7 linked regions of the Homo sapiens genome follow. The protein of the gene in region 6 purifies or fractionates together with the protein of the main gene of each other region. This does not show direct contact. Each region holds a gene or a part of one and is shown on either strand. Other genes may lie near its edges.

Region 1 (4,482 bases), on a different chromosome or scaffold from region 6:
AATATATAATCCTAATTTAACTAAATATTAGCCAAGTCAGCGGTTCTCAACCAGGAGTGTCCCCCCAGGGGCATTTTTAGTTGCCCCAACTGTGGTGCCCCAACTGCTGCAGATGCTGCTGCTGCTGCCGCTGCTGCTGCCGTCTAGTGGGTAGAGGCCTGGGATGCTGTTAAACATCCTCCAATGCGCAGGACAGCCGCTCCCAGAAAGTAGAGGGTTAAGAAATCCTGGCCTAGGGCGACTGATAAGCTAGGCAAACATTCAACTAGTTTCATGCTATTTTATGGCTCTTCAGTTCATGCTGTCCCTTCTCAATATCCTGCTTAGTCTTTACCTAACTCCTATCCATCAGAAACTCATCTCAGGTTGCATCTCCTCAAGGAAGCCTTAAAAAACAAACAAAAAAACTCCAGGTTAGGCTAAATTGCTCCTTCTCTTAACTACCAAAGCAGCCTGTATATTCTTCTATCATTTTCTGTTAAAATGATTATTTATGCATCTGTCACATTAACCCGAAGACAAGGTCCTTTTCTTAATCTTCCTTGACAAATAATAGGTATGTGCCAACAGAACTGAATTGGATCCACCATGTTCAGGATAGATGCTAATCAAAGATATTCAAACTTTCTGTCTGACCCAGATTTGCCTCGACACTGCTTCATCCTCAAGGCTGGAATTTGCTGTTTTCTCATCTCTAGGGACATCAGGTTCCCTTTATGCCAAGGATATATTAGATTTCACTCATTAGTTACTCTACTCTTAGACCACAGCTCTCTTCCCCTGAGTCTGATGCCATAATGCATTAATCCTATAAGTCAGTCTTCTCAAACTCTCTGGAAATTTAGGGTGAGATTCTGGGATTCCTATCATTACACCTGGTTCATTTTTCTTTGTCATACACAGTGTCTCTGGCTCATACACAGTATCAATTACTAAGTTTAGTTTTTATCCTCGCATGGAGTTTCGCTTCATCAATCAAGAGTCAGTCCATGTATTGTTTTAGTCTCTGGCTGAATGGGTGTTCATTTTTACTCTGAACTCTTCAGCAGACTTCTCTTGTTCTATTTGAAAGCTGAAGTTTCTGTCACCCCAAAATTGTTTTCTGAGTAAAGCCTCTAGATTCTGGTTTCAAGCTTAAATGGCTGACAGGCTTAAATGGTTGATCCTTTGGGGTTAATAGTCGATCTTTTCAGTAGGTTTGCCTGGTAACTAATTTACTAAACTGCCTAGAGCTAGGTAATAGTTTTACAATATTAACAACAGCCCTTCCCCACCAAACCAAACAACTGAAAAAACTTCAAACATCAAATTATGGTTGCTAGAACCTGGACCAAGAGAGGTATTTTAGTGAGTGAATAATTTTAAACTATGAAAACAAGCTCTAATTTTAGTTTAACAACTGCTATGTACTAAACAGAAAAATAGCAGTAGCCAATACATAAGGCCTTCTAAATTGCTAATTTTTCTGAGATACTAAAAGATGTGGACAAGTGACAAAAAAATCAGTTTAATATCTATAACTGCAAACAGTGTTTTCTTAACTGTTAAAAAAAAAGGTCGGCCGGGCGCGGTGGCTCATGCCTGTAATCCCAGCACTTTGTGAGGCCGAGATGGGCGGATCACGAGGTCAGAAGATCGAGACCATCCTGGCTAACACGGTGAAACCCTGTCTCTACTAAAAATACAAAAAATTAGCTGCGCGTGGTGGCAGGCGGCTGTAGTCCCAGCTACTCGGGAGGCTGAGGCAGGAGAATGGCGTGAAGCCGGGAGGTGGAGCTTGCAGTGAGCCGAGATCGCACCACTGCACTCCAGAAAAAAAAAAAAAAAAGTCACACAATGGGTTAACAAAATTTTAAAGAAAACTTAACCCTTTCATTGTAGCTAATTAACATTCAATTAACATTTCTTAGCTTTTTTTTCCTGTAAGAGTAAATAATATGTCAAATAAAGCTAGACAGGTAAATTTAGACATATATAAAACAGATACAGAGGCTGTCTTCCAGAAAACAGCAATTGATCAACAGTGGATATGGTAGCGAAAAAACATTCCAACTTACTTCAACATTTCTAAACATAAAGTTTTGACAAAACAAAGCATTTAGAAATAGGTATCACTCAAATAGTGACAATACAATGTCACATGTGTCATTCTAGACCTGGAAAACACAGGCTTATGTTCTGTACAATGACACAGCTATTCTCATAGGAGAGCATAAAAATAGATAATTATGACACGTGAAGTGATTATAATACCTTAATATTAGAATAAGCAGAAGTATAAACTAACAGATACCTGGCTAACATCCATTATGATAAATGAAATAACTTGATTAGGTGGAAAATTTGAACTGCTGAAAATATACTGAAGAAAAATCTCCTCATAAGACATTAATTTATAGCCCAAGATGAAAGAAATTGTCCACATCAAACATACTATATATTCTTTTAGAAAAAGAATTAATACATTTTCATCTTGTTTCTTTGAACAGTACTACTGGATGTTGAAGAAGGCCTCCAATGCTGACAATTTAGAAACATTAAACAAGTATTTAAAATGTCTATACATTTAGGCCGGGCGTGGTGGCTCATGCCTGTAATCCCAGCCGTTTGGGAGGCGGAGGTGGGCGGATCACCAGAGGTGGGGAGTTTGAGACTAGCCTGACCAACATGGAGAAACCCCATCTCTACTAAAAATACAAAATTAGCCGGGCGTGGTGGTGCATGCCTGTAATCCCAGCTACTTGGGAAGGTTGAGGCAGGGGAATCGCTAGAACCCAGGAGGCAGAGGTTGCAGTGAGCCGAGATTGCACCATTGCACTCCAGCCTGGGCAATAAGAGCGAAACTCCGTCTCGAAAAAAGAAAAAAAAAAGTCTACACATTTTAAACTATGAACTATGTTCAAGAATGAAAAATACTGACTATAAGTTATTTTGTGTTTTATTGCCTTATTTTTAAAGTGAAACTCATGTTTTTAAATTCTAACTTTTCATAGAATTTGAGAAATTCTACAAGTGAATATCATAAGCAAATAATAACAGACATAAATTTTCAAATAAACAAATTTAGTTGCCTTGAACTTCAATGAACCTATTAATAAACTGACATAAACTTACTTCCTAATTTCCTTATTTGAGAGAAATTACTGTTAATAAAATATTATATGAATCCTACCCAGAAAGTAGGCCACCTATCGTATATATGATTCCCTCCCTAAGTAAAGACTAACTTTTTGGAACAGAATAGGTAATTTTTACTCTCAAGCACATATACACACTTACAAATACTGGATTGAGGTATTCACTATATCCCTCTGTGAAAAATAAAGTTTCTTACTGAATGCTAAGAGGTCATAAAATCACTACATTTCCCTACCTCTTCCCATCCCTTTCATGCCACTCCTTTATGGTTTGTTACTTTTTAACACCCCTCTTAATTCCTTACATTACACAAGTTCACCTGTTTGCTATCATGTGACAAACTAGATACAAATCCTTAGAATATGTAAAGGTTAATCTTTGACATGGATACTGACGGCCAAAAAATCATTCATTTTTATTTGTGCCAAAGCTAGTTCTGATTTAACACTAAGAACATGACTAAGCTACCATTTTAGAGCCATATAATTTTAATATTTTCCACAATGCCTTGGAAATAGCTATCACTAAAATAGTACCCAAAACATCATGGGTAGATAATGTTTTTAAAAATGTTGACTGAAAATACACTTTGGTTTGAAATTCCAGAGTAAAGAACAGGTAAAGAGACTAAAATAGCTAAGATGCATTGTAGGGATGATACGTTTTAAATTTACTTATTTCTTCAGGTACAAAGAATCAGTTACTTTTAGATTTAGAAAGACTGTTGAAATCATCTACTGTAGGCACTCATAAATCAGGCAAATGAGGCCCAGTAAACAAATTACTTGTTTAAAATAAATAATCCAACAAGGATAAAAAACTAGATCCCTAAATCCTAATCTAACAATAATTATATGACTTTCCCCAATGAAATCTGAGTTTCCTGAAGGTTCTGAATGTAAGAAAAGTCCTAAGAGAATACCAAATTATAGATTATTAGCTGGAAAAGACTTTAAGGAAAGTCCAAGCTCCCTCATTTTTATAAATGAAAAAGATGAGGCACTTACAAGTTAAGTAATTTGTCTTACACTCAGGAGAGTTCTGGATAGAGCAACGACTAGAACACAGTTTCTTTGATCCTAGTCCTCTTTCTACTGTACCATACAGCACTTTAAACATATTTCATTCTCTGTTATAAGCAAAATTAATATTTTTACATGACCTGGAAATGATAAACTATTTATAGCTTAGGGCTTTCTTCTCCTTTAGCACATCTGCATAAACAGTTCTAATTTCTTAAAGTTAGTTTAAAAGCAGGATAGCACACAAAAAATATGTTAAGTGTTGAACAACTGCATCAAGGATGATAATCTGCTCTGTTGCCCAGGCTGGATTGAGTGCAGT
Region 2 (5,083 bases), on a different chromosome or scaffold from region 6:
CGCCTTACTCCTCTCCTCCATGTACTTGAACCCTCCAGGTGGTGCCGGGCTGGGGCTGGGGCTGGTTAGACCACTTCTGAGAACTGGACTATTTCCTGCGTAAACCGGGCGCTCAGGCGCTTGGACCCGGCCCAAGATTTGACTCCGGTTCTCACCCCGCCCTCTCCTGGGGTGGTGGTGGGGGCTGGGGGGCCGCTTGCCTGCCCCAGGGTCAGGCTGGGCAAGGTCCCTAGCTCTCTACCCAAGCTGTTACTCCCTCATGGGGCGCCTAAGGAGACTCAAGTGGACCCATCATATATGGGGGCTGGGCCTCGGGACTCTCGCTCTAATAAAGGACTGTAGGCCATGGGGCCTAAACCACGAAGCTGTGAGCACCTGGATCAGTGCGTGCCTTGCCCTCATAGACAAGATGTGAGTGTCAGGGTTCAGCGTCCCTGTTCTTGGGTGGCATCCATGCGGCCCACAGGCTGTCCTGGGCAGGAACAGGATGGTCCACTTTGCCATCTAGGACCTCTATTCTGTAGGGGCTAAGGTGGGCTGCATATATAACCAGCACTTGGTTCTCTTGGATCCCTCAGTCCTGTGGGGAGTAGGATAGGCAGGCCACATCTGAGGTGGGTCTCCGAGAGGGAGGCCACGTGAAAGCCCCATCATACTCCTGGTTGCTGCTGTCCACGACCTTTAAGGCCCCTCCCATAGATCTTCCAGTCAGGCTCTAAGGGTCTTTTGGACTTAAGACTTCCCCTCCCCGACCTTGATGGACATGGCTGAGCACCTTACTTGTGGGGAGCCCAGGGGGATCTTTGGGGCCAGGTTGCACTGAGGGTATATAAGCCCCCATATATCTGCCCTTGGTGCTGGGGGCAAAGTTCAGGGAGGGCTCCGATGGCCGTGTTGGGGGCAGGAAACAGTGAGGGGTGGGATCCTGGGGCTGACTGCTGGGCGGTTGGGGACACCACCCCTACTGGCCAGCCAGTGTCCCAGGCCCCTGCATCCAGCGGAGAGAGCAGCCACTCTTTGCCCCTCTCCTCTTCAGCACAATAGTGGCTCCTAGCCTAGGTGCCCTGCCATAAGGATTTGGAGCTGGTGGAGTGGGGTATGGCCCCAGGCCATACCCCAGCCTGACCTGCCAGGCTCCTAGGCCAATGGCAGCTCCTCTGGGTTCACCTTCTGAGACTGCTTCCTCAAGGTGAGAGGCCAGGGCTTTCATGATCCAACTGTGTGCATCATGGGCTGACTTCAGTCTCCTGAACCCCAGGACTCCATCGTCGTCAAAGCCAGAGGTGGAGCAGAGAGTCAGAGCAAGCACATGGGTGGGGGGCAGAGCTGGGTTTGAATCCAGGCGATGCCAGTGTTCCTGTATTTACTGAGCACTTGCTGTATGCCTGGCAGGAGGGTACGATTCCTCGGATCATGGGACAAGGGGCTTAGCCTGGCTGAGCCCCTCTCCTCAGGGTTTCAGTGGGTGTCACAGGAGGACCTCCCAATGAGGTCCACCTTGCTGTCCTGTTGCTTTTCTGTTTGGCCTGATTGGAGTGTTCCCAAGGGCAGGGATTTCTGTGCTCTGAGTGTCTGGTACCCAGCAGGGATGGGAGGGGAGGCAAGGGAGTTAGATGCCAGCCCTGGAGGGTGGATGGGGCAAGCAGGACAGCAGGAAGGAGGCTAGTGGTGCCCAAGGGGCAGAGACCTGGGAACCCAGAGGCCAGTGATGGAAAGGGTTAGCGCCAGGCAGAGAGGGGCTGGACCCACACACAAGACCAGGCAGAGCAAACAAACGTAGAGGAGAAGGGCTGGGGGCAAAGTCCTGGGGAGAGGACCAGCCACTGTCAGCAGTGCCAGGGCCACCACCCCTGGGGAGGAGCCATTGGGCTACTCTTGAGGGGCCAGAGGTGAGCCTGAACACTCCACAGCTGCTGCTCCTAGGGAGGAGCTGGTACCATGGGTGTCAGGCAACAGTTGGCCTTGCTGCTGCTGCTGCTGCTCCTGCTCTGGGGCCTGGGGCAGCCAGTGTGGCCAGTCGCTGTGGCCTTGACCCTGCGCTGGCTCCTGGGGGATCCCACATGTTGCGTGCTACTTGGGCTGGCCATGTTAGCACGGCCCTGGCTCGGCCCCTGGGTGCCCCATGGGCTGAGCCTGGCAGCTGCGGCCCTGGCACTAACCCTCCTGCCAGCACGGCTGCCCCCAGGACTACGCTGGCTGCCGGCTGATGTGATCTTCTTGGCCAAGATCCTCCACCTGGGCCTGAAGATCAGGGGATGCTTGAGCCGGCAGCCGCCTGACACCTTTGTAGATGCCTTCGAGCGGCGAGCACGAGCGCAGCCTGGCAGGGCACTCTTGGTGTGGACGGGGCCTGGGGCCGGCTCAGTCACCTTTGGTGAGCTGGATGCCCGGGCCTGCCAGGCGGCATGGGCCCTGAAGGCTGAGCTGGGTGACCCTGCGAGCCTGTGTGCCGGGGAGCCTACTGCCCTCCTTGTGCTGGCTTCCCAGGCCGTTCCAGCCCTGTGTATGTGGCTGGGGCTGGCCAAGCTGGGCTGCCCAACAGCCTGGATCAACCCGCATGGCCGGGGGATGCCCCTGGCGCACTCTGTGCTGAGCTCTGGGGCCCGGGTGCTGGTGGTGGACCCAGGTGAGGGCCTTGGAGCCAGTGGAGAATGGAAGGGGGCAAGGGCAGGGACTATAGGACAGGGGTTCTGCTGGGACTGGCAGAGGCCCTTGGTCCCCACCTGCCTACTTTCACAGGCAATTATAATCAAGACTTATGAGCAGAAAGTAGTTCTCAGGTCATCAGAGTTTAATTTTCCCACAATTTGACCAAAAATACTAATGATGGGATTCTTTACCAAACAACATGGATGCTTTTCTCTACTAGCTGCTCCTCTGCCTGCATCTGTGGGTCTCAGATCCCGCCTCGCAACCTCAAAGGTGAGCCTTGCCTCTGTTTCTCCTCTGACCCATCTCTGCAGACCTCCGGGAGAGCCTGGAGGAGATCCTTCCCAAGCTGCAGGCTGAGAACATCCGCTGCTTCTACCTCAGCCATACCTCCCCTACACCAGGGGTGGGGGCTCTGGGGGCTGCCCTGGATGCAGCGCCCTCCCACCCAGTGCCTGCTGACCTGCGTGCTGGGATCACATGGAGAAGCCCTGCCCTCTTCATCTATACCTCGGGGACCACTGGTGAGGGTGCCCATTAGCCCTAGCACCAGCCTCTGAACTCTCAGGCTGACCTGACCCCACACTTGACTTGTGACTCAGTGTTGACCTCTGAAACCACTTTACCCTCTGATTTTGACATTTGTTTTTTGTTTGGCTGTTTTTTTTTTCGAGGCAGAGTCTCGCTCTGTCGCCTAGGCTGGACTGCAGTGGTGCAATCTCGGCTCACTGCAACCTCCACCTCCTGGGTTCAAGCAATTCTCTTGCCTCAGCCTCCTGAGTAGCTGGGATTACAGGCACACACCACTATGCCCAGCTAATTTTTGTATTTTTGGTAGAGACAGGGTTTCCCCAAGTTAGCCAGGCTGGTCTCTAACCCCTGACCTCAGGGGACCTGCCCAACTCAGCCTCTCAAAATGCTGGGATTACAGGCGTGAGCCACTGCTCCCAGACTTGATTTTGATATTTGGCCTGAACTCTGACCCCCAATGTAATTTGAGAGGTCAATGCCAGAATTCTTCCTGTGTCCAGTAAACAGCCACTGAAACCTTTGATCTTGACATATTACTTTCAGTCCAAATTCAGCCTGTGAACCCAACCACAAATCCCTATACTTGACTGTTCTCTGAGAGCCTCAAACCCCAATGTAGGCCTGGCTGTTGGAGATCTATCCCTCTGGTCAGGCCCCTCTCTGTGCTGTCATGTCACCACCCTGCCCTTGCCATGCCTTCATCCCAAGGCCTCCCGAAGCCAGCCATCCTCACGCATGAGCGGGTACTGCAGATGAGCAAGATGCTGTCCTTATCTGGGGCCACAGCTGATGATGTGGTTTACACGGTCCTGCCTCTGTACCACGTGATGGGACTTGTCGTTGGGATCCTCGGCTGCTTAGATCTCGGTAAGCCCACTTCTGAGGATCCCTCCAGTCTACAGGACCACGGGAGTAAGTGTCGGCGTGGGGCTGTCAAGGCAAAAAGACACCATAGGTTACCCAGCACCCTGTGTTCTCACTTTTGAGAAGGGACACCCACCAATGACTACCAGGGCCGCATGGACAGAAGCTTGGACACCCACACAGTCCCTGATGGCCATGCTTTGGTCAGGAGGTGACAAGACCTGATACGAGTGATGGTCACAGGCATCCAAGGAAGGTGTGGTGCTCAGGAGATGATGGGGATGCTGGCCCAGATTTGTGACATGGCCCCAAGGGCAGCTGGAGTAGGAGTGCTCTCAAGCACTCCACAGGGCTGTCTCTCTGGACTCTTGATTCAGAGTCTAGATGGGGACCTCTCCATAGCTTGTTCTTTTTGTTTTCTCTCTTTTTTTTTTATTTTAATTTTTATTTATTTATTTTTTTTCGAGACAGAGTCTTGCTTTGTCACCCAGGCTGGAGTGCAGAGGCATGATCTTGGCTCACTGCAACCTCTGCCTCCTGGGTTCAAGCAATTCTCCTGCCTCATCCTCCTGAGTAACTGGGATTACAGGCGCCCACCACCACGCCCGGCTAATTTTTGTAGTTTTAGTAGAGACGGGATTTCACCATCTTGGCCAGGCTGGTCTTGAACTCCTGACCTCGTGATCCACCTGCCTTGGCCTCCCAAAGTGCTGAGATTACAGGTGTGAGCCACCGCACCTGGCTATTTTCTCTCTCTCTCTCTTTTTTTTTTTGAGACAGAGTCTCGCTCTGTCGCCCAGGCTGGAGTGCGGTGGCATGATCTCGGCTCACTGCAAGCTCCGCCTTCCAGGTTCAAGCGATTTTCCTGCCTCAGCCTCCTGAGTAGCTGGGATTACAGGCACGCACCACCACGCCCAGCTAATTTTTGTATTTTTACTAGAGACTAGGTTTCACCATGTTGGTCAGGCTGGTCTCAAACTCCTGACCTTGTGATCTGCCCACATTTGCGGGCATTTGCCTCCCAAAGCGCTGGGATTAC
Region 3 (4,482 bases), on a different chromosome or scaffold from region 6:
ACTCTGAATGGGTTTTCCACCTTTTTCTCTTTAAGCATCAGAATTCTTTTTGCATATGATGCCAAGTAATAGATAATGCCAGACTGCTCCAGCTGAAGAGGCTCAAAGTTCCACCCACCAACCTCTACCATTGCCACCCCTGAGGAGTTCCAGGGAGTGCTGTCTTTCTATAGCTGTGTATTTCCTCAGAACCAGTACTATTCTTTTCAAGTCATGGCTTTCCCCGTTTTTTTTTGGTCTGCAGCTATTCTGCAGGGCTAAGGATTGCTAGTCATTAGGTAATCATGGAACTGAGAACCACTATTCTTGTAAGTTAGATTAACAAACCAGTTCCCACTAGATACTTAATAACTTATTCTCCCCACTTATTCATCTGGGATGCTTCAACGAGTTACTTTGTTTAATCCCATCACTATATACAAGTGACAGCCAAACTTCTAGATGAAGGGGGCAGCTGATACTGTGGGACATCTGGAATGTACAGCTCTGTTCAAGCCCCGAGGAAAAATGACAATCCTACCACAGGAGCATTCTTTGTACTTTAGGGCAAATATTCAGGCCCAGGAACAGAAGGAAGGAAAACAACGCTTTCTTGGTTCACTGGCTATGCTAATCTACCAGAACCTATTAAATAAAGTTAAACTGAAAAAGGAGTATAAAATAGCCAACCCATGTCACATACATTTGTTTGATCATCAAAAGCATCTAGGTGTATGCAGGAAAAAAACCAACTCTGCTCTTGGGCTGGGCATGGTGGCTCACGCCTGTAATCCTAGCACTTTGGGAGGCTGAGGTGGGCGGATCACCTGAGGTCAGTAGTTTGAGATCAGCCTGGCCAACGTGGAAAAACCCTGTCTCTGCTAAAAATACAAAAATTAGCCAGGCGTGGGGGCGGGCACCTGTAATCCCAGCTACTGGGAAGAATGAGGTTGCAGTGAGCTGAGATCACGCCACTGCACTCCAGCCTGGGTGACAAAGCGAGACTCTGTGTCAAAAACAAAAAACAAAACCAACTCTGCTCTTGGGCTCCACTCTGGACTTACTGAAACAAAATCTAAGGGTGTGGGGGTTATGAGTGGATTCTGACAATCATCTGAGGTTGGGAACCACTACCCTAGATATCAAAATAATAAATGCCATAACAACATACGGATGTTTAATTTTTCCACCACCTTCCATTTCTAAGACAAAAGTTATCTTTTGCCAATAGTGGATAGCCAAAAGCTAATAAGCTTAAGATTGACTTTTCATATGTGTCAAAATATCTTGCAGTTCTTGCTGACATAAATTTGAGACACATAGTGAAAGATGACAAAATATGAACATGCCAGCTTTTTTTCTTAGGAACTCTATACAGAGATATGTCTTCTCTGAGGGACATGGCAGCAAATATGGTTGAGTATTAATCCCAAGTCAGTGTAAGTGGTATTGTTTGAGTAGAACCTGTAGGCTTACACTGAAGGATCTCTGAGATGGCAGGTCAGTAACAGGTTATCCTCCTCCTCCTCTCTTGGAACCCACCTCAGAAAACAATTTAGTTATTCAAAAAAGGGCTAAACAATCTGAAATCTATACCCTAGGGCAGGCTTTTCCTTACAGTGGGAGGTTATATGTAGGTGGGATATATCAAAGTTACTGAGCACCAAATTTTATTTTTCTAAGTAAGGCACCTAATTGGTTCCCTGTTCCCCCAGAGAATGACAGGAACTATTAAAATTCAGCATCGTGTGTGGTTCCTAGGAGTGCATCCAGCAAAAAGCTCTTTGTTCTACTTCTAAATCAAATATTTTAAGCCAAGACTATACATGTTTATGGACTTCCAAATTTTTTCCATCTAGCATTTTACCAATCTAATTATAAGTCTTTATTTTGCTAATACTCACCTGAGCAAGAGGAATATTAATTTGACTTCCTGAGACTATGCGTTTAACTCACAGTGAAGAGAGCACTTGATTTCAGAGAGACTTGGATTCACACCCTGGCTGTCACTTACTGATTTGGAACCTTGTAAGACAACCTCCCTAAGCCTCAATTTTCTCATTCACAAAGAAGTCTCCCTTACTGGAGACGTGGGAAGACTGAATGTGTGTAAAACAACCAGCAAGGAGCTGCGATACCACCTTCTCCATACAGCCTTCTCTGTTTCACCCCAGGATTTCTCCCATCTCATAATTTCTTTTATCTTGTCAGGATCACGTAATTCTTCTGTTATTTTCTGTGTTGATTTCTAAACTCTCAAAGGAACAATAAGATATAATTACTGTGTGTTGATTTTTTAAATCTCAAATGGACACTAAGATATGATTACTTCCTCCATGGAGTTTACACGGTCTTGGTTTTTCTATTGTGTCTAGGACAGTTCTTCATAAAGATTTTTTATTTAAACTGATTACCAATCTTCTTTTCTCTACAGGTGACCTTGGTTTGGCCACTTTTTCAGGACTCTGAATGCCAAAGAAGACTTACCTCCAGAAATATTATAGAACCAGTTTGTTTTACTATAAACTTACCAATACCCATGATAGAGGGATCACATCCAGATACAAAGTAGCCCACAATTCTTGCCAGTGGTGTGAAGTTATGTTTCTTAACAGCATCTTCACTAGCTATGATAACAGCTCCAGCACCATCAGCTACACCCTTGAAAATAAAAATACTAGATTAACTAAAGGCTAAAATAATCCAGTTAATCAAAGTTTGAACTAATGGACTAGTAGTATTAGGAATATGGCAGTACATAGGAAGCCAGTGCACAGTGTGAGATACAATTAGAAAAGTGGTACTGTGGTGGATGAAGGAGATTTTTTAAGGCACAGAATACAACTTTACTAAAGAACAAGGAAAAGGGTGTCAAGGAAAAACTTTTATCTAGATGTGAGTAGATGTAAGAAGAAATACGATAAACTGTATGCATGAGAAAAAAAAAAGTTTGAAAACCAAAATAAGCCAGATAGATTTGTTTCTGAAATTTCTTAGTTCTGAAAAAATTAAGAAATCAGAAGAGTATTATATAAATAAATATGAAAAGATTTTGTGTGGGTCTATGAAAACCTAAATTAATTGAATATGAACACTATTAGTTTAAGCTAAACAACTAAAGACTGGCATAAAAAGTATTTACAAGATACTTCATGATTACTTTTGTTGAACACACCAGGAAGAATTCAAGCTAATCTGTGTGGTGATACCAACCGATGCATTCCCTGCAGTAACAGTTCCATCTTTCTTGAATACTGGAGGAAGTTTCTGTAACTGTTCCAGGGTGGTTTGGGGCCGAGCATGCTCGTCTACCTGCATTGTCTGTTTTCCTTTCTTTGTCTTCACTTCAATTGGTGCCATTTCATCATTAAAGTAGCCAGCATCATTAGCTGAAAAATAGTAGAGAGACTATCATAAGAATAAAAGAGAGAAACATGAAAATAAATCAAACATATTATTCAATTTAATTTCTGATCTACCTTTTCCTCACAGTCTACTTTAATATTGAGTCTTTATTAATTTTTGAGATGGAGTCTCACATTGTCGCCTGGGCTGGAGTGCAACGGCACAGTCTCGGCTCACTGCAACCTCTGCCTCCCGGGTTCAAGTGATTCTCCTGCCTCAGCCTCCCCAGTAGCTGGGATTATAGGTGCCCACCACCATGCCCGGCTAATTTTTTTTATATTTTTAGTAGAGATGGGGTTTCTCCATGTTGGCCATGCTAGCCTCGAACTCACCACCTCGTGATCCACCCTCCTTGACCTCCCAAAGTGCTGGGATTACAGATATGAGCCACCACGCTCAGCCTGAGTCTTTACTATTTACTTACACAACTTACCTTCCGTATTGGAGGATTTACGATACCATCATGTGTTTATGTAGTTGCATTTTGCATCTTTTAAAAATTATAGAGTCTTTACTATTTACTTACACAACTTACCTTCCGTATTGGAGGATTTACGATACTGTCATGTGTTTATGTAGATGCATTTTGCATCTTTTAAAAATTATATTTTTAAAAATTATATTTTTTTAACCACAATTTTTTTTCACCAGGTACTGCTAAGACTGTTAGCAGCATCTGTCTGTTTGCTATAGATGTAATGGCAATAAATGGACTTAATACCCCTTTTAAACTTCTTTTGGTGAGATAAGCAATTAAAAAGTTACCAAGTTGTCTATGCCACAAAGTAATCTAACTGAAACTTAATAGTGATAGGCAACCTGAAGAAATTATGGGAGCAATCACTAATACAATTATAAGTAAAACATCTTACCTACTTTGACCTCCACTGACTAGAATGTACTGTAGTAATCTATAGCTTTGGAAATAGGGTCAGGAATAATACTAACCTTAATTTTCATATCACTTTACAATTGGCAAAATACTTTCCTTATATGCCCTTATTTGGTTTTAAAACAACCTTATTAGATAAATAGGGAAGGCAAATATTGTTATCTCTATCTTACAGAGGTTCAGTGAATAAATGATATGACTGAGCT
Region 4 (4,482 bases), on a different chromosome or scaffold from region 6:
GGGAAAACATCCAAAGAGGTGGGAAAAGCGTTGGATTTGTGTTCTAGTCCCCCAGATACCAGTGGCTTATTGTGGCTCTTAGGTAATTAAGTTCCACCTCTGTGGGCTTCAGTTTGCTCAACTCTAAAACAGAAGGTGAGGACTAAATGGTCTTTACTGTCTTTCAGCTGTAACAATACAGTATTCTAAGGACGAATGCAAAGAACTAGGGAAGGTGAGGCTATTACAGGTAAGAGGAAGAACAAGCACAAAGCCATAATGGTAGGAAAAAATTCATTCCTTGTGCATGGGCAAGGTGTGTTGTGGGGCAGCAAGAACCTTAAACAAGCCAATTTAACTATTCTAAAGATTTTGAGGGCAATAAACTTGGAAACTGGTGAAACAGAACGCTAAGCCAGGTAAGGGACACTAAGCAGGGGCCACAACGGAGAAAGAGATACCATGTATTTTACAGTCAGAGTTGGATTTATCTTCATGCTCCCCGCCTCACTCCACACTATTTGTCTTCATGGAACTTTACTGCAACTCTTTCCCCAAACTCATATCCCAAATACAGTAAGAAGAGAGTGTGATTACAGACACCCTCTCTCTTTAGACTCTCACAAGTAGCCCCCTTTTGTGGGCCAGGAAGCCAAGAGCCGTTGCTGAAAAGATGGTGGTCAATCCAATCAGCCTGAGCAGGCCTGGCACGGAGGGCAAATGTCTCTCCAAAAAGGTGGTGGTGATGGGCTGTGCAGGGACATCCTAGGTTCAGAAAACATTGGGTATTAGTACAGGGCTTGTGCACTTTATTCCAGAAAGTCTGTACTTTCTCCAGCTCTCTGAACATGACCCATTCTTGCCAACGTCTAGACCAGTAAACACGATGTTCCCTCTGCTTATACTGTTTACCCTGTCTTCCTCACTGGACCCTTCACTTCCTCAGGGAGGCTTTCTTTCCTGAGACCCCAGCCTAGGATGACATTCTCCTTTTGCATTTTTTCTCAGCATGTCTTCTTCACTGTTCTGTACTTTTTGGTTATCATCTGCATTCTCCACCAGATGTTGAGCTCCACAAAAATGCTGCTGTGCCTTTGCCACAATGGCTGATACAGAACACGTGTGCCATAAATACTTGTTAGTAAATGAATCAATGGTCCCTACAGCCCACAATCCCATCCCTGGCAGAAGCACTAAGAGAATGACTGTGGAGTGGCAGGCCTATTCTCTTTGACTTCACACTTAAAAGGATAGAGCAATAATTCTGACCTTTGTGACTTTGTCCTCTAAAGTGCGTTTGCACTCTAACCTCTATGCATCCCTCCTTCCAGCCAGGAAAACTTCCTAGGATTTTATTACAAAAATGATGAGTATATTAAAAATAAAATTTTAATCTAAATATTCTCCATTTCATTCCATTTGTTTGTCCCTGGACAGGAGATGCTAACACACTTTCCTTTCTTTTCCTACCTCATGTGGAGAATCACCAGGCTAGATATTTATTTGACAGGCATTTATTGAGTTATTATTTTTAGAAGTCTCCGAGAAATGTCTCCCTCCTCATCAAAAAATATTTTTTCCTAATAATCTGTAATGAATGTGACAGCTACAAATTTATCAAAGTTCATCTAAATCTCTCACCTCTACCCTAACCCATGATACTTATTTAAACATTCATGTTTAAATCACTTAGTTGAATCACTTAGGAAAAGGTATGTGAATATATACAAGTGTGCTCTTCTTGAAAATAATGGGTTTAGAGAAAAGATATCTAATTTCATGAAATAAAACATAGCCTACCACAGACTCTGGTTCTGACTGCCAGATTTCATCCTCTGGAATCTTCCCCATGGCATGCAGGATCTGAAATGAAAGAACACACTGGCAAATAGCAAAAGTGACACCATCTTTCTTCTAATCTGCTCCCTAAAGGACTAAGTAACTGTCTCTTGAGATATCCATCAAAAACACCAAGGTAAAGGCCAGAACACTCCATACAACCTTTAAGAGGCGCCAAAAGGTCTTTCTCCTGTGGTATAAGAGGTTCCAATCATTAGGCTTACCATAAATTTTAATAGTTATGAACACACCTCAAATAGGGATGACATCAGAGGAACTGTCAGAAAATCTTTCCTGTGAAATGAATTGAATTTTGAGTCCTAATAGAAGCATGTTTGGTTCTAGAATATCAGACCTAGGTTACCTTTCAAGTATAGTCAGGTTGATCGTTTGCCCCATGGGCTCTTTTTACTTCGGGTGACATGTTAGGTATTTTCATTATTACTTCGGGCTAAGGTGTTCACTTCACCTGAGACAATAGTTAAAATAGTATTTTATGGGTCTTAAGATGGGGGTTACTGGAGAGTTGGTCTCCAGGCTCTCAGATATCTTTGACCTACATGTCAGGACCATGAGTTGCCTCCTTCCCCATAATCTATGACCCCAGACCCTACCTCTCGGGCTGCTCTCTCCCCGGCCTCTACAGCCCCCTCCATGTAGCCGCTCCAGTGTGTGGCAGTCTCGGTGCCTGCAAAGTAAATCCTGTCCACTGGCTGGCGTAGAACCCTTGGAACAAAACCAAAGAGGCAAAAGTGGTCAGTCTCAGAGAGTCAGAGAAAAGTTTTCCCATAAAGACCAATGCTGGTCAGCTTCCACAGATTCTAAACAATCAAGAAGGACATTGGCAATTTTGGAATAATGTTTATGTGGTTCCTCCAGCTCTTACATGATCCTTGTCACAAACAAAATAGAATAAAAGCCAAAGTTCACTCCTGCACCAAGAGTTGCAGGTGAAGGAGCTGACATTAATGGACGTAAATTATGTATTTGCTTCATCAACATGAAGTGAGGGACTGTGTAAGCCCAGTCACATGGCTCCCTTTATGGCTCACTGGCTCTGTGGCAAGGTGATACATGCCCCCAATTCCCCACTGGCTATTCCACTAGTGAACTTGGCAAATCACTTACTCTCACTGTGCTCTGGCTTCCTTGCCTCTTAAAGGGAATGGTCCACTGATTTCTAAGACCCTTTCAATCAGTAACATTTAACAAATCTGAGAGTCTGACTATGGCTCCATAACTCCTATTCCTTGAACACTTGCCTGTACTGGTGAGGTCGGTACTATTATTATCACCATTTTGCAGATAAGAATATGGAGGTAGACTGTGGTGGACATTGTGATGAACCACGCAGGCCCCCTTCAAGAATGAAAGACTTATTCCCAGCTGCTGGGAGTGCTGCCAGAAGAGGGCCTACTGATGTCAGCCCTCTTTGGAGATTGCCTCTGCTAAAAAAAACTATGTTACCTACTAGGTCATGCCTCCTTCCAATAGCAGTTGCATCCAGTGACTGATCACCACGGGCTGTAAATACCTGATTCCCAAGCTCCAACTTGAGACCTCCCACTCTGAAGGGCCATTCTAGTTCTGGAACTTCCTCTGGGGTCAGCTGAGGCCTTCACTGGAACTGCACTGCAGCCCAAGTTCTCCCTATGCCCACTCCTGCTTCCTTCTCCCTTCCACAGCTGCCAATCCTAAGGGCATGCCTTAATATATATCCTGTCTGCTAATCGTTGTTTCAGGGTCTGCTTCCTGGAACCTAACCAGCAACAAAGACAAAGTAATTTGCTCTCGGTCACAGCTAGTAAGTAGCAGAGTTGGTATTTGAACACAGGCAATCTGACTCTGGAACCTACAGTCTTAACCACTTAGTTATACTTCCTCTCTCTACTGCATTATTTCTTCAATCTATTAAAGAACTCTGTGATGTAGCTACTATTATCATTATCTCATTTTTACATATGAGAAGACTGAGGCTTGGAGAAATGTTCAGTGATATGCCAAGAGCCACACTCCTAGAAAATAGCAAAGCCAGGATTTGAACCATGTCTAACAGATGTCAAAGTCTCTATTTTTATCTTATATTCTTTGCCTGGTGTATCATCACCCTATAATATTTAATAGTTAGTAGACTGCCCACATGCTATACAAGGGACTGAAATGTCATAGCACTTGGCCTGTAAGAGGGGCAGTTCATTGTTGCTCTGACAAAAATACCATAAGGAAAGCACCGTCAACATGCCATTATTCATCCTGTCTCATGGTTCTCTTATATCTGATAAGCGATGTCAAGAACTAACATCCATGTTCCATCTTAGTCAACACTGTACACCACTGGGCCTTTTATTAGAAAACCAAATGAGCTGGCTTGCATTGGTGGGTTTTCTTTCACCTGCTCTGATTGTAGTCATCACAAAAAGGAGAAGAAAATACAAGGAGAGATATTATATAGAATACAGATGGTCTCCAACGTATAATTGTTAACTTTATGATGGTGTTAAAACAATACACATTCAGTAGAAACCATACTTCAAGTACCCATACAACCATTCTGTCTTTCACTTTCAATACCGTATTTAAAACTTGACATGAAATATTCAACCCTCTATTATAAAATACGCTTTCTGTTAGATGATTATGCCCAACTGTCGGCTAATATAAGTG
Region 5 (4,482 bases), on a different chromosome or scaffold from region 6:
ATATTTAGTTGGGTGGTCAGAGTGGGCCTCCTGGGTGGGGGATGGTTGCTGTTCCAAGTGGAGCAAAGAGCTGGTGTGAAGGCCCTGGATAGGGAGATGCTGGTGTGGTTAGGACCCAGCAGGGAGGGGCTGGTGTGAGGGATGCAGAAGGCACAAGGGAGAGAGGGGGCAAGAAGGTGCTGTGGCCAGGTTGCGGTGCTCAGAGGCTGCTGCCAGGACTTGGCTCTAGGTGAGAGGGGGCCATTGTGGGGCTCTGAATAGAGGAAGGTCATGATCCGGCATGGCTGCTGGATTGAGAATAGACTACAGGGGTCAAGGGAGGGAGCAGGGGCGAGGCGAGAGGATGGTGGCCCCAGCCAGGGTTGTAAGGAGGACATGGGGAGACGGGTTCAATGGTGTCTTTTCAAAGTGGCCTCAGCAGAACTTGATGGTGGGTTGGGAGGCGTGACATACTGGCATGTGGATGGGAAGGACGAGTAGAGGCAGGAGTTTCTGGAGCCGTGTCTGTGAGTAGAAGGGCTCCAGGGCCCAGCTCAGGCTCCTGCTTCAGGAAGAGCCTGGTGGGCCTCGAGAATATCAGCGGGAGGTGGCGTGCCCTGTGCTGGACCATGGGACGGTGGCTCCAGTCCCAGGAAGGTCTCCCCTTGCTCCTTCCATCTTCTCTGTGAAATACGAGGCCGGGTCATCAGGTGTGAAACGTGGGCACTGCCCCCCACCACCCTAGGTAGACTCCAGTGGCTGTAGGGCTGTGAGTCACAGGGGTGAGGAGGTCCAGCTGCCCTGAGGCATTGGATGGGGGTGGGGAGCTGGGGAGGCTGGAGGATGGGTGGGCACAGGCCTCAGGATGCTCTCAGGTGACAAGATTGCTGAAGGTCTTGCACTAGCACATTTATATTTTTATATTTCTTTTGTACCATGATGTTTTCTGATATCCTAGAACAGTTTTTTCTTAACCCTTGTATTTCTGGCAACTGAGGATGTTGTTAGAAAGTGCCATCTTTATCAAAGAACTGAGAGCAGGTGCTCGGTACACATTTTCTTCACATGTGTATTTATAGACAGATCTCTGGAATTGCATTATTTTGCAGCTTCAAAGAACCCCCGCTCTTGCTTGGTGTTCTGCATCCAAATACGAAGCTGCGACAGGCAGAAAGGCTGTTTGAAAATCAACTTGTTGGACCGGAGTCCATAGCACATATTGGGGGTAAGTCTAAGCTTGGGTGGGGGGGGAGCCTTCCAGGCTGTCTGTTGTCTGAGGGGGCGGGTTCTGTGGGAGCAGCTGCAGTGGCACGCTGCCCCTGGACTGGGGCCCTGCACATCCTTCTTAGCTGCGGACGTGGGACTTGGCCCTCAGACATCACATGGGAGGCCCTAGTGGCTCTTTCTGCTGGTCTCATCTGCCCAGTTTGCATGCCATTTTAGCACTGGGTGATTTTGAATTCATCTCTATGGAACACTTTGTTGTGCTCAAAGTGTTGTGAAAGGAAAAAGGCCAAATACAGATACTGATTTTTAGTTCATTTATCAAAGTTAAATAGCTATTTGACAGCACAGTATTTCTTAGTTCCATTTGCTTTGTATAGATTTCACTGTGATGAAGACAAATGGTTCTCAATATTTCCACTGTTTTTGTCTGACTGTTTGAAATCTCACCTTGATGGGTACACTTAAGGGTAACCATCTGCATCACACTTGCCCATGCCTCAGAACTAGAATTGGGTCTGGTTCTAATACTTGCATCTCTAGCAACCTTGAACAAGGCATTTTCTGTTTGTTAAAATGAGAATTAAGTTTAGTATTGGGAAGGCACAGATAGTCACAGATAGTTTAAAACTTAATCTGGTATGGGCTTGCTGAGCAGCTTCTTTGGAAGTGCCGCTTGTTATTCTGAAGCACACTGTTCTCCAGGCAGTGGGTGGCTGTGGATATGTGCACACAGGGTGCTTCTGTTGTGCTCTCAAGGCCGGTCAGTGGCCTCTCTTCTAGTGACGTTTGACCAGCTTCTCTTGCCTGGGCCCTGTTATTTGACACAGGCCCCAAGGACTGGTCCATTTCTGCAGTTGGTTTGTTTTCTTGGCTGTCAAAGTCAAAATTGTTTCAAGAAGAGTAAATATCATGATAGAACTTTGTATTTCTCTTAAAAAGACATTGGCATTTATTTGTGTAAATTTTAAAAGCTTTAGCTTTTTTTGGTGAAAAATCAAATCTTGCTCTTTAAAACTGAAACTTAACAGCAGTTGAAGTGCAAACCAATGATCTTACCTCCCAAAGAGAGCACTTTCCTGTCTTTTTCTTTTTCACTGGGTTACTTCTCATTGTACTTTGTCACCAGGTCCCAGCTTTTTCTCTTTCTTTGATGAGCTGGTGACATTTCTTGGCCAGGCACAGTGGGGTCCTCTCTGGTGGGTGTGAGCCGCAGGGACCTGCCACTGCTGTCTCTGCCACCTCATTTGGAAGCTGTCCTGGGGGCTGGCTGGCAGGTTGCTGACAGTGGAAGGAGGTACTAGCTCTGGGGAGTGCTGGGAGAGAGTAACCACCAACTATAGCAGGCTTTATTTTATTTGTTTTTAAGTAGACTTTATTTTTAAGAGCAGTTTTAGGTTCACAGCAAAATTGAGCAGAAGGTACAGAGATTTTCTGAAAAAGAGTTTTTATTACGATTGGGTGTTGCATTTCGTCAAATACTTTTTCTGCACACATGCCATGCACAGCCTCCCACATGATCAACATCCCCCACCACAAGGGTAAGTTTGTTACAAGTGATGTACTCACATCAATACGTCAATAGTACTCGGAGTCTGTAGTTTACGGTAGGGTTCACTCTTGGTTTTATACATTCTATGGGTTTGGACAAATGCCATGTATCCACTGTTATGGTATCTTACAGGGTGTTTTCACTGCCCTGAAAATCCTCTTTGCTCTGCCTGTTCATTCCACCCTTTTCTTTTAACCCATGGCAACCACTGATCTTTTTGCCATCTCCATAGTTTTGCCTTTTCCAGAATGTTATGTAGCTGGACTCATACAGTATGTAGCCTTTTCAGATTGGCATCTTTCACTTAGTAGTATGCATTTATTTAAAATTCCTCCATGTCTTTCCATGGGTTGATAGCTCATTTCTTTTTAGCACTGAGTAATATTCCATTGTATGGATGTGCCACAGTTTAGTTACCTACTGAAGTACATCTTGGTTGCTGCTAAGTTTTGGCAGTTATGAATAAGGCTGGTATAAACATCTGTGGGCAGGTTTTTGTGTGGACCTAAGTTTTCAGCTCATTTGGGTAAATACCGAAAAGCATAATTGCTGGATTGTATGGTAAGAGTTAAGTTTTGTAAGAAACCACCAAGCGTTTCCAAAGTGGCTGTACCATTTGCCTTCCCATTAACAATTAGTGAGAGTTCCTGATGCTCCATGTCCTCGCCAGCATTTGGTGGTGTCAGTGTTTTGGATTTTGGCCCTTTTAATAGGTGTATAGTGGTGTCTCGTTGTTTTAATTTGCATTTCTCTGATGATATTTGATGTGGAATATCTTCATATGCCTACCTGCCATCTGTATATCTTCTTGGTGATGTGTCTGTTCAGGCCTTTTGCCCATTTTTGTAATTGGGTTGTTCATTTTCTTATTGTTGAGTTTTAAGAGTTGTTTGTGTATTTTGGATAATAGTTCTTTATCAGACATGTTGTTTGCCAATATTTTCTCCAGTCTGTGGCTTCTCATTCTTTTGACAGTATCTTCTGTAGAGCAAGAGTTTTTAATTTTAATGAAGTTTCACTTATTAATTATTTCTTCATGTATCTCACCTTGGTTTTATATCTAAAAATTCATCATCATACCCTAGGTGTTATATCTAAAAATTCATCATCATACCTAGATTTTCTCCTATGTTCTAGGAATTTGTTTTGTATTTTATATTTAGGTCTATGATCCATTTTGAATTCCATTTTTGTGAAGGGTATAAGGTTTGTGTCTAGATTTATTTGTTTGCATGTGGATGCAAACAAATTTGTTCCAGCACCATTTGTGGAAAACACTGTCTTTTCTCCATTATGCATTGCCTTTACTCCTTTGTCAAAAGATCAGTTGATTGTATTTATGTGGGTCTGTCTCTGGGCTAAAAATTTTATCTGTTCTATTGATTTATTTTTCTATTCTTTTGCTAATACCACATTGTCTTGATTACTGTAGCTTTATAGAGAATCTTGAAGTTGAGTAGTTTCAGTCCTCTGACTTTATTCTTTTCCTTCAATATTGTATTGGATATTTTGAGTCTTCGCCCTCTCCATATGAACTTTAGGATTCATTTGTCTGTATCTACAAAATAACTTGCTGGGATTTTGATTGGGATTGCATTGAATCTATAGATTAAGGTTGGGAAAAACTGACATCTTGACAATATTGAGTATTCCTGTCCATGAACATGGAATATCTCTCCATTTATTTAGTTCTTTGATTTCTTTCATCAGAATATTCTAGTTTTCCT
Region 6 (4,482 bases):
ACCATATGAAGATTCCTATAAGAACTAAAAGTAGAAGTACCATTTGATCCAGCAATCCCACTACTGTGTATCTTCCCAGAAGAAAAGTTTTATATGAAAAAGACCCATGCGCATACATGTTTACAACAGCACTATTAGCAATTTTAAAAATATGGAACCAGCCTAAATGCCCATCAACCAACAGGTGGATAAAGAAAATGTGATATATATATATATATATATATACACACACACATAGACATATACAAGTATACACACACACATATACATACTATATATATACACCATGGAATACTACTAAGCCATAAAAAGAAACAAAGCAATGGCATTAACAGCAACTTGTAAGGAGTGGGAGAGCATTATTCTAAGTGAAGTAATTCAGGAATAGAAAATTGAACATCATAAATTCTCACTTACAAGTGGGAGCTAAGCTATGAGGATGCAAAGGCACAAGAAAAATATAATAGGCTCTCAGGATTCAGAGGGGAGGGTGGGAGGGGGTGAGGGATACAAGATTATATACATTGAGTGCAGGGTACACTGCTCACATGATATGTGCACCAAAACCTCAGAAATTACCACTAAAGAACTTACCCATTTAATCAAACACCACCTGTTCCCAAATAACTATTGAAATAATTAAAAATATGAGAATAAAGTCAACCAGATGTATATTTTTAAATATCTAGAAAAAATAGAATTGGCTCATGAAACCAAAGATGTTACAAAATAGTTCAATTTTACAGTAGGAAGAAGGTAAGAGTTGCTGTATTTCTAATTCCCCATAATTTCCACTGAGAAATGACTTAAGCTCTAAAACAGTAAACACTTGGCCATAAATTTTAGGAAAAATATGAGAATAAAGCTGCATGCATTATAAAAGCCAAGCAATACTACTCATCTTAAAATATCAAAAGGAAGAGAGACTTTCTGTACAATTTAACTATGTAATAGTTTCTTTAGCAGCAGTTAAAACAATACAATCCTGTTCAAAATGAAGCCAAATTATTCTGAGTATGTGCAAAACAGTACTGATACTGTCAGTGGACTTCTTAATGATCTTGTGTTTATGTACAATGTGTGAAATATAGTTAAGCTGAGTAAATTTTTTTGTGAGTATACTGTGAATTAGAACAACAAATTTCAATATAAGTTCAACAAATTTCAATACGAGCTCATAAGGCTTTATCTTATTTTTTATTTTCCGTAGTGTTTTCTTCATTGCCACAAAATATTTCTAACCATGAACTGGGTGGTAAATCTCTGAAAAACAAATTTTTATTTGACAAAGTAAATTTTGAAAAGATTTTTTTTTCTTTTTTTTTTTTTGTCTCAGGAAGAAAGAAATCTTGCATCACAATCTTTCTTGCTGGAATAAACTGAAGTAGTCTCACCTATCAGGTTTTCCAGCTTCAAATCTCAGATATAACTAATCATTTTTTCCCTTCTTTGCTTTTCTAGCAAACTTCCAGAAACAAAACAGACAACATTTTGTGACGATAAATATCACAGTTGCCACACAGACCAGCAGGAACCCAATCACATCCAAAGAGTGGTACTGGAACCAGGTGAGGTCGTGGGCTGCAACCCGAAGGTGTTTAGCTCCTTTGTGGCGCATGACAAATTCAATCCAGAAGACTGCTCGATCCAGGGGCTTCACTGGTTGATCATGTTGAATTCTTGATAATTTCATAACATTCTCTTTATATCTGAAAGATAAAAATAAAGACAGTAATGTAGCAGGAAGAGTTACAGACAAAACCCCTCAGACACCGAGTTAAAGAAGGAAGGGTTTTATTCGGCTGGGAGCATCGGCAAGACTCCTCTCTCAAGAGCTGAACTCCCTGAGTGAGCAATTCCTGTCCCTTTTAAGGGCTCACAACTCTAAGGGGGTCTGCGTGAGAGGGTCATGATCGATTGAGCAAGCAGTGGGTACATAACTGGGGGCTGCATGCACCAGTAATCAGAATGGAACAGAACAGGACAGGGATTTTTACAATGCTTTTCCATACAATGTCTGGAATCTATAGATAACATAACTGGTTAGGTCAGGGGTCGATCTTTAACTATCAGGCACAGGGTGTGGCACTGGGCTGTCTGCTTGTGGATTTCATTTCTGCCTTTTAGTTTTTACTTCTTTCTTTGGAGGCAGAAATTGGGCATAAGACGATATGAAGCATGGTCTCCTCCCTAATACTGAAAGTAAGTTAATTTGCCTGTCCATATCAAGTTTACGAAAGGCTTTTAAAGGGCCAAATAATTCAAAATAAATGTCAAAGAATTGACATCGAATTTGTGTATTTTAATTTGAGTCATCATAGAAAGTTTGGCTTTTAAATTGGACTTCTCTCATTGAGAAATATTTTTAAAGTAGAAATTGAATGTTAGCTGAGAAAGTTAATTTTTTTTGAAGCAGAGAAAATATAAGGCATTTTTAATTTGTTTTTAATTGTTTAAGTTTTTGAGGGTACATATTAAGTGTATATATTTATGGGGTATATGAGATGTTTTGATACAATATGAAATAATCACATCATGGAAAATAGGATATTCATCCCTTATGCATTTATCCTTTGTATTATGAACAATCTAATTACACTCTTAGTTCTCAAACAGACATACGGAGAACATGCTCAACATCATGAGCCCTTTTAAGTGCTATGAGAAAGATCGTGAAAATGCAATATGAGAATTATCATCTCTAAGTTCCGAAAAAGTAATTGTGTCATGGTGAGTGACGTGCCTCATAGCTAGTCACTTTGCTTCTACATTACTCTTTTGTCTCCTACTCTTTCCCACCCTGTAGCCAGAATGATTTTTTCAATTAAAGTCAGTTTAAAGCACTCCCCTGATTAAGACTTTTGCCTGGCTTCTCATTATTTTTAGAATAAAATCCAACTCTGTTATTTGGTCTACAGAACCCTACATTTTTAGACACGGGCAAACTCTTTTCCTAACACTTTTCCCCTGCACACTGTCTTCTAGATTGGCCTTCTATTTTACTTTAAGCTCCCAAAGGTGTTCTCATCTTAGTACCTTACACATTTTTTTCCCCTCTCTCCCGCTCTTGGAGTACTCTCTCTTGCTACAACCCAAGGAATGCTTCTCTCCCTTCTTGTGGCTTCCTTCTAATGTTACCTCTAAGAGAGGCTTTTACTGGCCACATTATGATGGAACCACTAGGATTTTCTCTATTTTCTGTGCTTATTTTGCTATTTGAGTCCTAGAATTTTAAAATGCATTATATATCTCATAAAATAAACATTTAAATATTAAATACAAAAGATAAATATTCATACACTAAGTGAATAGTTCAAAAATGTAAGATCATCTTGAACATTATCTTGAGGTGAAGATATCGATTTACCTACTGTTCAGATTGTGGTATAGGATATCACAACCTGCCTAGAATAACTCTCTTTTTCTGAACCATTTAGTCACCACTTTTGTCCACCAACTAAGGATTAGCCTGACTTCGAATAGCATACATTAGTTTGCTTGTTTATGTAATTGAATTATATAATACGTACTCATTAGTGTCTTTTTTTAATGTAGCAGTTGTTGGGTAATTCCATTGCTGTGTAGTATTCTGTTGATTGATAAAGCACAGATTATGTCTTCATTTTATGATTAATAGATATTTGGGTTGCTAACAATTTTTGGACAATATTGATAATTCTGTCATAAATATTCTTCTATATGGTATTAGATTTATTTATACATATCTGTTGGGTATATAACTGGGAGTAGAATTGTTGAGATAAAAGTGGAGACATAGTTGTGATTCACCTCTTGATCTCTAAAATTTAAAGATATGTTAGTTATAGTTTTTATAACCTCCCTTACTTCCACTATGGCTGGATCATATAGTCTTTATGATATTGAACCTTATTATATGTACTAAATCTTGATTTATTGCCCACCACATATCACTTCAGATAACTATTCGACATGCTCTAGGAAAATGTGTCTTCAAGTTGATATATATGATACATATATGTTTATTGTGTGTGTATGTATGTGCGTTTGTATCATTTTACATTATAAGATTCCATTTGTTAATTGTGTTCTTCAAATGTTTTATGTCTTTACTAATTACTTGCTCTTTTCTAAAGTCTGTTTAGATTGAGTGAAAGTATTTGTATAATCATATTTAAATCTACCAATTTGCTTTATATATTTTTTTTCTATTTGTCCAAGCTGGTTTGTGTTCTTTTTCAATTATTTCCTATCTTCTTTAAAGGTATTTTTATCATTCATTATCCTTCTTTTTTTGTGATAAAGTATTTTTCAAGTATTCCTTTAGATGATACCCTGCTTATATAAAAAAACATTATTGATAGTAGCTATAAATGCTGAATTGATGGTAGCTGGACTCCACAAGGAATTTTGCACATTGATATCTTTGGGTTTGAAAAAATCAATTATTAAAAATTTAACTTAAAATTATATTTTTTGTGCTTCAAAGACCAACATCAAAAA
Region 7 (3,319 bases), about 31 Mb from region 6:
TAAAATAGATAATTTCATCTGTGCAGAAACTAACTATTAAATGTTAAGAGTCCTTAAGTCTTTTCATCAGCATTCCTTTTTCTAAATAAAATACTCTAAGCTCCTTTAATTTTTCTAATCTACCTGTGAGATTTAATGAAAGTGTTTTACTTTGAATATAAAACAATGTCTTTGAACTAGTGTGAAGATGAAAATTATTAGCCTTCTGTTACAGAATTTTTAAAAAGGAAATAGAAATGCAACTAATTTTAATTTTTTGATATTTAAAAACACATTCAGGCAAAAGTGAGATATGTGATAAAATCAAATTTTTGATTCATCTTGAGCTATGGATGAAGGAACTGAGAGCAATCAAACAGTAGCACATTTAATGTGAAGTGTGACCCACAGTGTTACCAAAAGGAAACACAGAATGAAAAATGACACTGGTCATCAAAAGGTTCACAATATAACTTAGGGCTTCCCACATAATCAGTCATCTTTCACCTCTTTCCAAAGTACTTTCTAGACAGAAGTTTTTCCAAATGAAATGGAATTGAATTCTTTGCAAAGAGAAATCAACAACAGCAACAACAACAAAAAGTAATTTGGATTTTTTAAAAAAGTACACAGTATCCTTAAGAATCTACCCTTATCCATATTGTAACCAATCTGTCTTCCATTTCCACTTGTTCATTTGAAAAAAATATCTTTTAAACCTTTGCTGAATATAGGACATCAGAAGGTACTCTAAGTGATTCAGGGATTAAAACGACCTCTGACCTATTTTTACACTGATCATAACAGCAGCAGGGGTTTTAATTTGCGCAGCAAAAATTAATATTCCTGTCAAAACATAAGGGCATAAAACTCTCATTTAATTGTGAAAGCAGTTTCTCACAGTTTGATTTAAAGTCCACAATTCAATTACAGTAGAAGTAAGTCTTCTGTTGAAATTATTTATCCTCTTCATCATTATCCAGGGCACATTCCCCAGCCAATGCAATCTGTTTATCCAGTTATCTAGAGCATCATTAAAGGACCCACCATATTTTTCCTCCTAGGACCTACTGTACATGCCCCACTGTAAGAATGATTTTTTGTAACACAATATTTTTTCAAATATCTTGGCAATCAAGGGCTTACGCCTCTAGAGACTCTTTGGAGAAGGTAATGAAATGGAATTAAAATAGCTGCCTAGAAGCCAACAGAGAGATAGTTAACAAAAAACTATAAGCATCGATTGTCTTCTTGGTGAGTTTAGACTCCATTTTAATATAACTTGGGTATTTCTGACCTGCTGAGAGGACTGGGTTCCAAGAATGTTTTCATTTTGGTCTTTGTTATGCCCATACAAAACAATGTAGTATCTTACAGACACTCCCCACATCTGCAACTGAAGGCAGGGGAGAGCTCAGGGGAAGGGCAAACCTTCCCTGCCCAATATCTGAGACTCACCAGGCCCTGGTTACCAGCAGAACTCTAAGCACATCCAGGTCACCTCTGAATCCCTTAAGTGTTTCCTTCCAGTCACTGGCATCATACGTTCAGACCCTGTAAAGTTACAGCTGTTAGTCCAATACCATTAAATATAATATGAACAAGTTTTTTCTTTTTTTCTCAAATGTTTAGGGTGACTGTGGTAATAACCACTGACATCACAGTGGACTCCTCTTTTGTGAAAGCTGGCCTGGAAACCAGTACAGAAACAGAAGCAGGCTTGGAGTTTATCTCCACAGTGCAGTTTTCTCAGTACCCATTCTTAGTTTGCATGCAGATGGACAAGGATGAAGCTCCATTCAGGTAAGATGCAGCGTTCAGGTCATGTTCCAGGACCATCCCCAGTGCACCAGGAACTTGCATTCAGTTTAGAACATTCAGTTTCAGAATTAAAACAAAACAGTAGAAACCCAGGGAAAGATGAATTTTCTTTAAATGAGTAGAAGAATAATTGATAAGGCCAAAAAAAGTCAGTTTCTGGGATACCAAAAAAAAATCTAATGACTAGTTCATTTGATTCTGGAGATAGTTATCATATTCTAATCCAGAAACAATTTATCCAGGAAAGAAAGGCCTATGATTTACCATAGGAGTTGCCACATAGTTTCATAAAAAAAATCAGATACACATTTACTGTCTGGTATCTTCACAATAAACTGCTGGACAAAAGATTTCAAATAAAACACCTGGCAATCCATTTACCATGTTTAAGGGCCAAAATGAATTCGCAATTTTTAAGTATTCCATATAGCAGCAACTTGACCCTGTTTAAGTTTTGGCTCAAGTTTCAGAGTTTGGGATTCTGAATTTTTTTAAATAATGCTTTTGGTAAAATAGTTAGTGTTTTAAAATACAAAGATATAATTTCCATGTAACATTTGTGCTGTGTCATTTGAATTTTGTAACCATTATTTGTAACAATACTATCACATAGAGCTAGAATGCCTTGAGTCTAGGTAGCACTGACCCTTTCATAATAGTTGACCTACGGTAAGCATAAGGGTCATTTGTACAGTTAAAACAGCAAGCCACATCTTACATCATCTCCTTTTTTAAGTAGGCCAAAATTGAGCACCTTCATTATTTTACTGACATTTCATGATTCATATTAAAAAACGCATTGATTATATAAAAGTAAACGAGTCAGTTGTATTTTCAGAGAATAAAAGATTGTGCTTTATAGTTAAACTATTAAGCTGTCACTAACTTACATTAAGTTATATCTAGAATGAACCTCCACAAATGCATTTTAAAAACCCCAACCTTCTAATGGTTGAAATGCAGTGACCACCAACCCACCCACATGATTAATTGGTTTGGTTCCACATTTGCCTTGGGCCAGAGCTCTTAGAATGTTTCTCTGTCCGCATTCTCTGCTTAAATCCAGCTGGGCTTGCCTGTTACTCAAAAGGAGAGTGCTCCCAAGGTGGGGCTTCTGGAATGAAGGGTGAGACACAGCACAGCCTGCAAAGCTTAATGGCATCACCAAAAAGCTGAAATGAATTTAGTCTTTCATTCTAGAAAAATGTATGGCAGGACTCCCATATCCCAGGCATTTGAAGTGTTTCTGTTGATATAAAAAGAAATGAGAAGAAAATCACCCATTCATGGAGTAGCCTTTGACACTCATATCCTTTCTCAGATTGCTTTGGAACAGAAACTTCAAGTACATTCAGTAACTTGGCTGGAGAGGTATAGGGTGACTTAACTGTGTGTGTAATTCTGTTATTGTTGCTGTTGTTGTACAGGCAATTTGAGAAAAAGTACGAAAGGCTGTCCACAGGCAGAGGTTATGTCTCTCAGAAAAGAAAAGAAAGCGTATTAGCAGGATGTGAATTCC

Evidence for each region.
Region 1: the proteins of UGT2B7 (region 6) and MPC2 purify together in Homo sapiens (co-immunoprecipitation; one study listed by IntAct). This does not show direct contact.
Region 2: the proteins of UGT2B7 (region 6) and SLC27A5 purify together in Homo sapiens (co-immunoprecipitation; one study listed by IntAct). This does not show direct contact.
Region 3: the proteins of UGT2B7 (region 6) and ACAA2 purify together in Homo sapiens (co-immunoprecipitation; one study listed by IntAct). This does not show direct contact.
Region 4: the proteins of UGT2B7 (region 6) and MAOB purify together in Homo sapiens (co-immunoprecipitation; one study listed by IntAct). This does not show direct contact.
Region 5: the proteins of UGT2B7 (region 6) and APMAP purify together in Homo sapiens (co-immunoprecipitation; one study listed by IntAct). This does not show direct contact.
Region 7: the proteins of UGT2B7 (region 6) and MTTP purify together in Homo sapiens (co-immunoprecipitation; one study listed by IntAct). This does not show direct contact.

The regions. Positions count from the first base shown.
Region 1 is NC_000001.11:167,926,508-167,930,989, forward strand, and holds part of MPC2 (mitochondrial pyruvate carrier 2), read right to left. Parts: intron 1-4,482. UniProt on the Homo sapiens protein: Mediates the uptake of pyruvate into mitochondria.
Region 2 is NC_000019.10:58,508,811-58,513,893, reverse strand, and holds the start of SLC27A5 (long-chain fatty acid transport protein 5), read left to right. Parts: upstream 1-1,901; 5' UTR 1,902-1,938; coding exon 1,939-2,626; intron 2,627-2,770; exon of another isoform or gene 2,771-2,963; coding exon 2,964-3,173; exon of another isoform or gene 3,174-3,888; coding exon 3,889-4,047; exon of another isoform or gene 4,048-4,110; intron 4,111-5,083. UniProt on the Homo sapiens protein: May mediate the import of long-chain fatty acids (LCFA) by facilitating their transport across cell membranes. Also catalyzes the ATP-dependent formation of fatty acyl-CoA using LCFA and very-long-chain fatty acids (VLCFA) as substrates.
Region 3 is NC_000018.10:49,788,960-49,793,441, forward strand, and holds part of ACAA2 (3-ketoacyl-CoA thiolase, mitochondrial), read right to left. Parts: intron 3,369-4,482; coding exon 3,193-3,368; intron 2,641-3,192; coding exon 2,511-2,640; intron 1-2,510. UniProt on the Homo sapiens protein: In the production of energy from fats, this is one of the enzymes that catalyzes the last step of the mitochondrial beta-oxidation pathway, an aerobic process breaking down fatty acids into acetyl-CoA.
Region 4 is NC_000023.11:43,766,875-43,771,356, forward strand, and holds part of MAOB (amine oxidase [flavin-containing] B), read right to left. Parts: intron 2,545-4,482; coding exon 2,433-2,544; intron 1,843-2,432; coding exon 1,780-1,842; intron 745-1,779; coding exon 592-744; 3' UTR 1-591.
Region 5 is NC_000020.11:24,975,489-24,979,970, reverse strand, and holds part of APMAP (adipocyte plasma membrane-associated protein), read left to right. Parts: intron 1-1,088; coding exon 1,089-1,204; intron 1,205-4,482. UniProt on the Homo sapiens protein: Exhibits strong arylesterase activity with beta-naphthyl acetate and phenyl acetate. May play a role in adipocyte differentiation.
Region 6 is NC_000004.12:69,109,684-69,114,165, reverse strand, and holds the end of UGT2B7 (UDP-glucuronosyltransferase 2B7 isoform 1 precursor), read right to left. Parts: intron 1,710-4,482; coding exon 1,430-1,709; 3' UTR 1,179-1,429; downstream 1-1,178. UniProt on the Homo sapiens protein: UDP-glucuronosyltransferase (UGT) that catalyzes phase II biotransformation reactions in which lipophilic substrates are conjugated with glucuronic acid to increase the metabolite's water solubility, thereby facilitating excretion into either the urine or bile.
Region 7 is NC_000004.12:99,619,450-99,622,768, forward strand, and holds part of MTTP (microsomal triglyceride transfer protein large subunit isoform 1 precursor), read left to right. Parts: intron 1-1,611; coding exon 1,612-1,782; intron 1,783-3,227; coding exon 3,228-3,319. UniProt on the Homo sapiens protein: Catalyzes the transport of triglyceride, cholesteryl ester, and phospholipid between phospholipid surfaces. Required for the assembly and secretion of plasma lipoproteins that contain apolipoprotein B.